Linked DNA regions of Homo sapiens. The protein of the gene in region 1 interacts with the protein of each later gene in a biochemical or structural test. Each region holds a gene or a part of one and is shown in the gene's direction. Other genes may lie near its edges.

Region 1 (3,500 bases):
GAAAAATTTTTTTTGAGTATTAGAGAATAAAAGCCAAGTTATGAAGAAAGGAACATAGATATTCCAGAAAACAGTAGTCATCTTCGCTCCTATGATTGAGTGCCAAATTTAGCTCTGAGCTTCCGGGCAGCCAGGGCAAGGGAGGGATATGGTACCCGAATGGCTCTCATCTAGTTAAAGGAAATAAACCATTTGTTTAAGAGAGGACTTTGTTCTTCAGCACTTGGTGCCAAGGGGGAAGTTCTGTTGGATCCTGTAGACACAGTAGGAGAGAGGAGTGGAATATTACTTCACAGAGGTTAAGGGCTTAGGCTGCAGGTGCAGGCAGTCTTGGAATTTAATCTTGGTTCTGCCACTTACTGGCTGCCAACCTAAAGTTTGTTTGCTTTCCCCTTTGTGCCTCAGTCTCCTTATCTGTAAAGTGGGCTAGTGGTGGCTGCAAGCTATAGAAGTGAGGCATGTCCACTGTATAGCACAGCACCTGGCACACAGCAGATGCCCAGTGAATAACAGCCCTCACTGGAACCCCTGGGTGCTCACAGACATTATGGCCTCTGTCCATGGCTCAGGTGCGCAGGGTGAGGGGAGCTCTGTGTCTTGGGTTGGGATGGGGGTGTCAGCAGGGAAATGAGCTGAGCAGAGGGTTTGAGTCAGAACAGTAGCCCCCGGTTTTCCCAGCTGCCCAGCAGTGAAGGCAACCTGACATGTGGCATCCATCTCCCCACAGTGCTCCAGCTTTTCTGCAGCTCACCCAAGGCTGCTCTCCGCTATGCTGCTGTTCGTACCCTCAATAAGGTAAGAGTCCAGCTTGGGGGTTGGAGGAAGCTGTCTGATCCAACTGGAGGTGTGTCCTAGCCTCTGACCTGGCTGGGAAGGATAATAGCCCTGGTCACAGTTAGTTTCTTCTAGATGGTGAGATGATCTCATCCAAAGGACTTCTGACTGGGCCAAACCATCAAATGTAGTGACAGCATTGGGTTCCTGCCCTCTCTGTCACTGTCCTCCCAAAACAGGTTGCCATGAAGCATCCGTCAGCTGTGACAGCTTGTAATCTGGATCTGGAGAACCTGGTCACAGATTCAAACCGCAGCATTGCCACGCTGGCCATCACCACCCTCCTTAAGACGGGCAGCGAGAGCAGCATCGACCGCCTCATGAAGCAGATCTCCTCCTTCATGTCAGAAATCTCGGATGAATTCAAGGTACCTGCTACCCCCAGGACACCCACGGCCCCCAGAGGAAGGAGCTCTGTCCCTGCTCTCTGTGGCCACAGCCTTCCTGCCAGGACTGACCTGAGGGGCTGGTCAGCCTTGAGGACTCAGAGGAGGCCAGCAGTTTGCTCTGCAGAGACTTGGCCTTCCGAGAAATGTGCGTAGTCCTGCCTCCAGGCCTCCATCCATATCGTCCCCTTGTACTGAAAGAACAGTAGTTTCCAGGCCAGTTAAGGGTTCATTGATTTGTTGTCCAAGTATTTCTTGAGCACTTGCTGTCTGCTATGTAGAGTGACAAAAGGGGAACATAGCAGTGAACAAAGCAGGTGACTGCCCTCCTGGAGCTTCCTTTCTAGGGATGGGAGAGGAACAGTAAACAGGTAAAGAAAGGAGTAGACGAGATCATCTCAGGCATGGGTACTGCAGTCAAGAGTGTAGAAATACAGCAGGGATGATCCTAGGAAGAGCACAGTCTGGGAAGGCCCTTCTGGAGGGTGACATTTGAGCTCAAACCTGAATCAGTGCAAAGAACCAGGAGGAAAGGCAGGAGCAAGTCAAGGAGAGAGAAGGCCAGTGGGTGGAAGAGCTGTGGGGCCAGTGCAGGTGACAAAGTCAGAATAGACAGGGCTCAATCATGTAAGGCCCATGGTCAGGTAAAGAGTTTTAATTGCAAGGAAGACATTGGAAAGGTGTTCTTTTGGGGCAGGAGGAAGGATGTGAATATTTTTTGAGCTTATATTTTGAAATAATTCATAGGAAGTTACAAAGAAATATACTGAGAAGTCCTATGCACCCCTCCATCAACCCTCTCCTACAGTGCCAGCATCCTACACTAGCACAGGACAATGTCAACCAGGAAAGTGACACTGGCATGACCCATAGAGCTCATTCAGATTTCACCAGCTACACAGGCAACTCCTGTGTGTATATATGTGAAGTTCTATGCAAGATGTCATGTGGAGACTTTCAAAATTGCCACCACAGTGAAGACACTCAACTATCCATCTCCACAAGACTCTTGTTACCTCTTCATAGTCAGGCCCATTCCTACCTCTCTATTCCCTAACCCCTGGCAGCCATTAATTTGTTCTCAATTTCTGTAATTCTGTTATTTCACAATTGTTAATTGATAGAACAATGAAGTATGTCACCGGAGAGTTTTAATCAGAGCAAACAATAATATGAATAATATATTGTGGTAAATTCTATAGTGTGGATTATGCAAAGTAGGCAGCAGTCTACTCTGCCTGTGGGTTACAAGAATGCTTTGCAGGCTGAAATGACACAGTGAGATTTGCATATTAGATCCTTCTGGGTCTGGGCACGGTGGCTCATGCTTGTAGTCTCAGTGCTTTGGGAGGCCAAGGAGGGAGGATCACTTGAGGCCTGAATTTTGAGACCAGTCTGGGCAATGTAGCAAGACCTCATCTCTACAAATTTTTTTTTTTTTTTTTGAGTTGGAGTCTCGCTCTGTTGCTCAGGCTGGAGTGCAGTGGTGTGACCTCAGCTCACTGCAAGCTCCGCCTCCTGGGTTCACGCCATTCTTCTGCCTCAGCCTCCTGAGTAGCTGAGACTAGAGGCACCCGCCACCATGCCCAGCTAATTTTTTGTATTTTTTAGTAGAGACGGTGTTTCACCATGTTAGCCAGGATGGTCTCGATCTCCTGACCTCATGATCAACCCGCCTTGGCCTCCCAAAGTGCTGGGATTACAGACGTGAGCCACCGCACTCGGCCTACAGAAAATTTTTTTAAAAATTAGCCATGTGTGGTGATGCGCACCTGTAGTCCCAGCTACTCTGGAGGCTGAGGTGTGAGGATCACTTGAACCCAGGAGTTCGAGGCTGCAGTGAGCCATGATCATGCCACTGCACTCCAGCCTGGGTGACAGAGTGAGACCTTGTCTGAAAAAAAAAAAAATTGGCTGGGCGCGGTGGCTTATGCCTGTAATCACAGCACTTGGGAGGCTGAGGTCGGCAGATCACTTGAGATCAGCAGTTTGAGATCAGCCTGGCCAACATGGTGAAACCCTGTCTCTACTAAAAAAATTAAAAAATTAGCTGGTGTAGTGGCTCACACCTGTAGTCCCAGCCACTCCGGAGGCTGAGGTAGGAGAGTCGCTTGACCTGGCCTGGAGGTGGAGGTTGCAGTAAGCCGAGATCGTGCCACTGCACTCCAGACAGAGCGAGACTCCGTCTCAAAAAAAAAAAAAAAAAAAAAGAGTCCTTCTGGAGCAGAGTGGAGGGGTGACTGGGTAAAGAGACTGTTGGAGTAATTCAGAAGGAGAGGA
Region 2 (4,015 bases), on another chromosome or scaffold:
TCCAGTTTGTGGGCTCCTGTACCACATGCGGTGAGTTAAAAGAACAGGTGGGCAGCGGCGCGGCTCCCGCGTGAGCTGTGTGACTTTGAGCAGGCCCCACTACCTTTCCGAGCCGCATTTCCACCTGGGCGAAGCGGGTTGAGCCGGCCTGGCGGGGAAAGATTCTTTTAACGGGGGAACAACGTAAGGCGTGCACCGGGGAACACGGATGCTGCTGAGTCAATGCCCGCTCTGCCGTTCTCTTTGAGAGTAAGGCTTGCGTCTCGCCTGCTCTAGCGCCCCAGGTTTGAACGCAGTGGGCGCGCAGGAGGAAACATAGATTCACGAATGCAATGCCAGCAAAGTAAAATTTTTCACCCTTGTCCGTTTTTCAGGGTGTTTCAAGCGGAGGAGTCCTGAGTGGAGAAGATTCCGCTTCCCTGTTTTCAGGTTCTGGCAGTCATGGACCGGGAAGAGCGAGTCGGGGCGCGGGTCCCTGGCGGTCGCTGGAACCCTTGTGAGTGAGGTTGGTGCCCGCGAGGGCACAGCGGGCGCTCGGGAAGTCGCAGCCGCCGGCAGAGGGCGCCCCGGGCACACGGAGCGCGCGGCGCTGGGGTTGGGGCGCTCGGGAGGTGCGGGGCACCGGCTGGAGTCCGGCGTTGACCGCAGCCGGGACGCGCCCGCCACCTGGGCGGGGAAGGAGTGAGTCCCCTCGGGGCGCAGCGGCGCGCGCTGGCCCGGATCCCAGCTGCGCCGCGCCCTCCCTGCGAGCGGTGAGTACAGGCGCCCACGGGCATCTCCAACCCTAGTTAGGGGACACTTGGAGACAACGCAGGTCGGACGTCCGCCGGCCGTTCTAGGAGTTGGTGTGCGGGGAATGGGGGGTGCTCCCGCTCGCTTAGGGCTTTGGGTCCGGCTAGGGGTTGACCCCAAGAGGCGCTGGATGTCGGGGCTGAGCTTTGCTTTCAGGGGACTCAAGCTTACTTGAGGTTCTGACATTGGATTTGCCTCGCGGGCCCTGCGCGTGCTGCGCGGGGATCCGGAGACTGGCGAGGTAACCAGGGAGGGCAAGCACTCACCGGGGCGTCCTCCGCCCACCTCGCCCGCAGAACCATCCAGGGGGACCACGTGCGGCTGTCGCCCGCAACTCTGCCTGTCAAGCGAGGACCGCCCCCAGGGCAGGGGAGGGGACGCGCGGGCGGGGTGGGCTGTGCCCCGCGGGAACCCCGCCGGCCTGTGCGCTTGCTGGTGCCAGCTCGGCTCGCTGCCTCGCATTGCCACAGGCTCCTGAGAGGTCGCGGGCAGTGCCTGCGGGGAGGCGCGGGGCCCTGCTCTGTAGGGCTGAAGGCCGCCCGAGGTTCGCCAAGGCTCTGGGCTCTCGAAAGGAAGCCAAGAAAAGAAGCTGCCCAGGTGACCAGTCCTGGGAGTGCTCTCTCCCAAGGAAGCTCCGAGCGCCCAGGAGCCCTTAGCCGGGGTCTAGTGCCCTTTGAACAATCTCCAGCTCTTCAAGGAAGTGGGCTGCCGCCGCCTCTCTTGGGACCTGGCCTGGGATCCTTTCCCCAAACGCACCCCGGCGATTTTTGCGCACCGGGAGCCGAACCCCTGCTGCGCGCAGCTGGCTGGGCTCAGGCGCGCTTCCTCAACGTTTCGGAGCCGCTGCCCCCAGCGAAGTCCACATTCCAAGCTCCAGGGGCTTTGAGAGAGACGACCCCAAGGCAAGGTAGGTGGCTCGGACGGGCTCGCCCTGGGAATTATTAGGTTGGGCTTGACGTGAGTAATGATGCCATCTGCTTAAGTCTTGGAGAAAGACCGTGTGTTTTCCTTTTGCTTTTTAAGGCGTTTGGAGAGCTGCTGAGGAGCCAGGGGCTTGGAGGAGCGAGAAGACATGTATTTTCAGCTGAGTCTCAGAAGGGGAGAATCTCCTGTCACCACCAGAAAAGCAACAGCCCCGAAATGTGATTGCAACTGACTAGCAGAGCAGAGGCCCAGGAGTCACTGGATTGATGATTTAGAATATGCTAAAAAGCCAGTGCTTTATTTGGGGAATTCAGGGGCTTTCTGGTGCCCAAGACAGTGACCTGCAGCAAGGGAGTCAGAAGACAGATGTAGAAATCAAGAGTGACCATCCACGGGATTGACTTGGATTGCCACTCAAGCGGTCCTCTCATGGAATGTTGGTGAGGCCCTCTGCCAGGGAAGCAATCTGGCTGTGCAAAGTGCTGCCTGGTGGGGAGGACTCCTGGAAATCTGACTGACCCCTATTCCCTGCTTGGGAACTTGAGGGGTGTCAGAGCCCCTGATGTGCTTTCTCTTAGGAAGATGAGGACTCTGAACACCTCTGCCATGGACGGGACTGGGCTGGTGGTGGAGAGGGACTTCTCTGTTCGTATCCTCACTGCCTGTTTCCTGTCGCTGCTCATCCTGTCCACGCTCCTGGGGAACACGCTGGTCTGTGCTGCCGTTATCAGGTTCCGACACCTGCGGTCCAAGGTGACCAACTTCTTTGTCATCTCCTTGGCTGTGTCAGATCTCTTGGTGGCCGTCCTGGTCATGCCCTGGAAGGCAGTGGCTGAGATTGCTGGCTTCTGGCCCTTTGGGTCCTTCTGTAACATCTGGGTGGCCTTTGACATCATGTGCTCCACTGCATCCATCCTCAACCTCTGTGTGATCAGCGTGGACAGGTATTGGGCTATCTCCAGCCCTTTCCGGTATGAGAGAAAGATGACCCCCAAGGCAGCCTTCATCCTGATCAGTGTGGCATGGACCTTGTCTGTACTCATCTCCTTCATCCCAGTGCAGCTCAGCTGGCACAAGGCAAAACCCACAAGCCCCTCTGATGGAAATGCCACTTCCCTGGCTGAGACCATAGACAACTGTGACTCCAGCCTCAGCAGGACATATGCCATCTCATCCTCTGTAATAAGCTTTTACATCCCTGTGGCCATCATGATTGTCACCTACACCAGGATCTACAGGATTGCTCAGAAACAAATACGGCGCATTGCGGCCTTGGAGAGGGCAGCAGTCCACGCCAAGAATTGCCAGACCACCACAGGTAATGGAAAGCCTGTCGAATGTTCTCAACCGGAAAGTTCTTTTAAGATGTCCTTCAAAAGAGAAACTAAAGTCCTGAAGACTCTGTCGGTGATCATGGGTGTGTTTGTGTGCTGTTGGCTACCTTTCTTCATCTTGAACTGCATTTTGCCCTTCTGTGGGTCTGGGGAGACGCAGCCCTTCTGCATTGATTCCAACACCTTTGACGTGTTTGTGTGGTTTGGGTGGGCTAATTCATCCTTGAACCCCATCATTTATGCCTTTAATGCTGATTTTCGGAAGGCATTTTCAACCCTCTTAGGATGCTACAGACTTTGCCCTGCGACGAATAATGCCATAGAGACGGTGAGTATCAATAACAATGGGGCCGCGATGTTTTCCAGCCATCATGAGCCACGAGGCTCCATCTCCAAGGAGTGCAATCTGGTTTACCTGATCCCACATGCTGTGGGCTCCTCTGAGGACCTGAAAAAGGAGGAGGCAGCTGGCATCGCCAGACCCTTGGAGAAGCTGTCCCCAGCCCTATCAGTCATATTGGACTATGACACTGACGTCTCTCTGGAGAAGATCCAACCCATCACACAAAACGGTCAGCACCCAACCTGAACTCGCAGATGAATCCTGCCACACATGCTCATCCCAAAAGCTAGAGGAGATTGCTCTGGGGCTTGCTATTAAGAAACTAAGGTACGGTGAGACTCTGAGGTGTCAGGAGAGCCCTCTGCTGCTTTCCAACACACAATTAACTCCGTTTCCAAATACATTCCAGTGTATTTTCTGTGTTGTTCATAGTCAATCAAACAGGGACACTACAAACATGGGGAGCCATAAGGGACATGTCTTTGGCTTCAGAATTGTTTTTAGAAATTTATTCTTATCTTAGGATTTACCAAATAGGGCAAAGAATCAACAGTGAACAGCTTCACTTAAAATCAAATTTTTCTGGGAAGAAAATGAGATGGGTTGAGTTTGCTGTATACAA
Region 3 (3,500 bases), on another chromosome or scaffold:
TTGATTATAAACAAATATTAAAAAGAAATTTAAAAAAATTAAATAAGAAGAAAAATGCATCTGGTCTCTTATTTTTGTACATTTTAGGGGATTTTCTGAATGAGGAAGATAAGCTATTTTATATTTATGATCCTGGTTTTCATGTCTTCAGTTGTGTTCATTGATGCCTAGTACTTTGGTAGTTGACTCAACTTCACATCTGAATATGATATTGTTTCTCTGCTTAGCTCAGGCTTACTGAGCAATGTAGTATTTTCCATGTAATAAGTTAAGGTCTGTTTGCTTGACAGGTGAGTACAGACCACACATGTATGGGCGTTGTTTGCCATCAAGTTAGGAGCCTAAGAAGCTGATGCCCTATATTATTGTTTCCCTTGGAGTCATGGTATCTATCTGTCCTACTTTTTTTTTTTTTTTTGAGACCGAGCCTCTCTCTGTCGCCCAGGCTGGAGTGCAGTGGAGCGATCTCAACTCACTGCAAACGCCGCCTCCCAGGTTCAAGTGATCCTGCTGCCGCAGCCTCCCAAGTAGCTGGGATCACATCCGGCTAATTTTTTTTTGTATTTTTGTAGAGACAGGGTTTCCCCATGTTGGCCAGGCCGGTCCCAAACTCCTGACCTCAGGTGATCCCCCTGCCTTGACCTCCCAAAGTGCTGGGATTACAGGTATGAGCCATCGTGCCCAGCCTGTCATACTTTTTAAAAGTGATGGGTAAAGCACTTAAGGGGTCTATATTCAAGCCAAGAGCACAATTTTGCAGTAGAAAAAAGAGTTGCAAATCAAGCCCTGGATAAATATCTCCTGCTATTAAATGCAGATGGCTTCTTCCCAAAGAAAGAAAAACTTTTTTTTTTTTTTTTTTTTTTTGAGACTGAGTCTCGCTCTGTTACCCAGGCTGGAGTACAATGGCATGATTTCGGCTCACTGCAACCTCTTGTATCCTGAGTTCAAGCGATTCTCCTGCCTCAGCCTCCCGAGTAGCTGGGACTACAGGCACATGCCACCACGCCTGGCTAATTTTTTGTATTTTTAGTAGAGACAGGGTTTCACTATGTTAGCCAGGATGGTCTCGATCTCCTGACCTTGTGATCCACCCGCCTCGACCTCCCAAAGTGCTGGGATTACAGGCATGAGTGACCACGCCCAGCCTGAAAAACTTCAATAATTTTATCTTTAGCTTTTCCCTAATCCTACCCCAACCCCATGTTGTTTATCTGACCTATATTTTCATTCTTGTTCTTTTCCCCTCAAATCTTAAACAAGGCTTTCTACCAAGGTTCCTACCTATTTAGAAATGCCAAAATACAAATAATGTATATAAATCTATATTTATATACATATTTCTATCTCTGTAAAGATATCAATTTCTCTGAGCCTTTTAGAGGCTCAATAACTATTTCTGTTTCTTAGTTTGATTTGTCTTTGCAGGTTTGGAATTACAAGCTTCGGCGCTGTCTTTTCACATTGCTTGGGCACTTAGATTATATTCGCACCACGTTTTTTCATCATGTAAGTAGTCATGGTGGCGCTAGTTTTGGAGCATTCTTAGTTTCCCCATAGTAATCTTTATTTGATCCTTGAGAACCCATGTTTTAATAATAGAGTTGTTTTTGGAGTGGCTCTTCTACAATCTGTGTGGTATTGTCCTTTCTGCTTTTTTTCTTTCTGCAAAAGGAAGCACTTGGGATTATACTGAATTTAATTTTATTGGATTCAGTGGATTCTATGGGAAGTCATTGTTTCTCTGTAGGGAAAAGTAGGGATTTGATTTCAGATTTGCTGAACCAAAAAACAAAAGTTTGCCAGCTAATCCCATGTAGGGTATTATTAGTAAGTAGTAGGTGTGTCTGGAAGAAGGTCAGACTAAGATGCCATTTTGATCAGCTAACAAACGTTTCGAAGTATTAACAATCATACCCCTCTATCCTAGGATTTTTGGGTCTGGTGGAGGCTGTTCCCTTAGCCAGGCTTACTACTTTCTTTGATCTGCCAGGTAACATAGTAGATTTAGATAGTGAGGTGCAGATTACAGACTCCCAACCTCTGAATCCAGTTGCACCCTGACAGGATCTCCTTATAGTTCTGTGTATTAGCATTAACTTACACTATTCTTTGATTGCCAGTAAATTAAGTCTCTTTAATTAAGTTAGAAAGAATATGATGAAATAAACAATTTACTGGTTGAGTATATATTATTTCTTTTTTTAATTAAAAAATTCTAGGATAGGAGAGAATGAGAAAATTACAGCTTAAACATTTGAGAATGATAACCACTCAATAAGATAACTTATTAAGTAGGAATTATTTGTCATTGCCATAAAGGACTTCCTGAAGACCCTTGCCTAGAACAAGTTGCCATCTACCTGGAAAGTTACGAAAGACCTTATTTTCTTTCATTTTACCAGCTCACTAAATATGTGTGTGCCTTATACTTGCTAAGCTTTGTGCTAAATACTGAAGGTAGAGATACTATCTCTATTGAAAATAGAAATACCATCTATTTTCAGTGTTTAACACAAAGCTTAGCAAGTGTAGTAAGAAGGAAGTGTAAATAAGAAATACTTCCTTTTCTCAACAATCTTATAGACTCCAAAAAGGCTAAATTGTCTTTACATGTTACTTTCTGCTTTGCTTGCTGAGACCTGGGAATTTTTTGAAACTGGACAGAAAGAAGTCAGACAATAAAATAATATTCCCATCCTAGAGTTAAAGGTAGAAGAGTCTTTCACAGGATCTTAATTTACATGATTAACTGTATATAAATACACACACACACACACACACATATAGAAGTAAATGTAAATGTATGTTTCACTATCTGCCTCTGAGAATGTATTGTGCCTCTAACTGGCTTCCATTCTTAAGTCTTATAGGTGAAAGTGCCGAAGTTGAGAAAAGCTGTTAGAGTGGTAGAGAAAAGGAGACAGCTAACCTGATAGCAAAAGCAGCAGCCCCTTTGCTAATGTAGCTGAGCCGTTAAGCAATGCAGTTCTTTAGAGAAAAATGATTACAAGAACCTGATAGAACAGATTTGTTTAATGTTTAAAGCCTTTGTCTGGAATATCTTTCAGGAATATCCCTGGATTCTGAGTGCCTCCGATGATCAGACCATCCGAGTGTGGAACTGGCAATCTAGAACCTGTGTTTGGTAAAGCAGGAGGCAGAGGGCTCGAAAAGAGTCTTCATTTTTCCTAGTTTTTCATAATGAGCTTCTCTTAGAACAATCTTCTCCCTTCTCAAATGGACTATGTCGGCTGATTAATTACTGATTGTATTTGTAGGATGCTTTTAAGTGCAAAATAATAAATGTAGAGGCAATCCCATATATGAATCTGGACTTCCAATAATTTCTTACCAGGAAGAGAAGTCATATAGCCTTTTAGAACAAGAACTTTTAGCTGGTTTTCAATTATTTTCCCATAAAACCTGAGTCAAGGTCTAGACCTTTGTCTTATTTTGTGTTTGGAGCTGGAGCTTTACATAGAACTTTCCATGAAGAG

The links. The genes of interacting proteins can lie anywhere in the genome.
Region 2: the proteins of COPG1 (region 1) and DRD1 form a complex in vitro, tested with the Homo sapiens proteins (one study listed by BioGRID).
Region 3: the proteins of COPG1 (region 1) and COPA form a complex in vitro, tested with the Homo sapiens proteins (one study listed by BioGRID).

Annotation. Positions count from the first base shown.
Region 1 is NC_000003.12:129,259,606-129,263,105, forward strand, and holds part of COPG1 (coatomer subunit gamma-1), read left to right. Parts: intron 1-727; coding exon 728-795; intron 796-1,013; coding exon 1,014-1,202; intron 1,203-3,500. UniProt on the Homo sapiens protein: The coatomer is a cytosolic protein complex that binds to dilysine motifs and reversibly associates with Golgi non-clathrin-coated vesicles, which further mediate biosynthetic protein transport from the ER, via the Golgi up to the trans Golgi network.
Region 2 is NC_000005.10:175,441,383-175,445,397, reverse strand, and holds the start of DRD1 (D(1A) dopamine receptor), read left to right. Parts: upstream 1-1,215; 5' UTR 1,216-1,699; intron 1,700-1,815; 5' UTR 1,816-2,298; coding exon 2,299-3,639; 3' UTR 3,640-4,015.
Region 3 is NC_000001.11:160,333,251-160,336,750, reverse strand, and holds part of COPA (coatomer subunit alpha), read left to right. Parts: intron 1-1,428; coding exon 1,429-1,509; intron 1,510-3,071; coding exon 3,072-3,148; intron 3,149-3,500. UniProt on the Homo sapiens protein: The coatomer is a cytosolic protein complex that binds to dilysine motifs and reversibly associates with Golgi non-clathrin-coated vesicles, which further mediate biosynthetic protein transport from the ER, via the Golgi up to the trans Golgi network.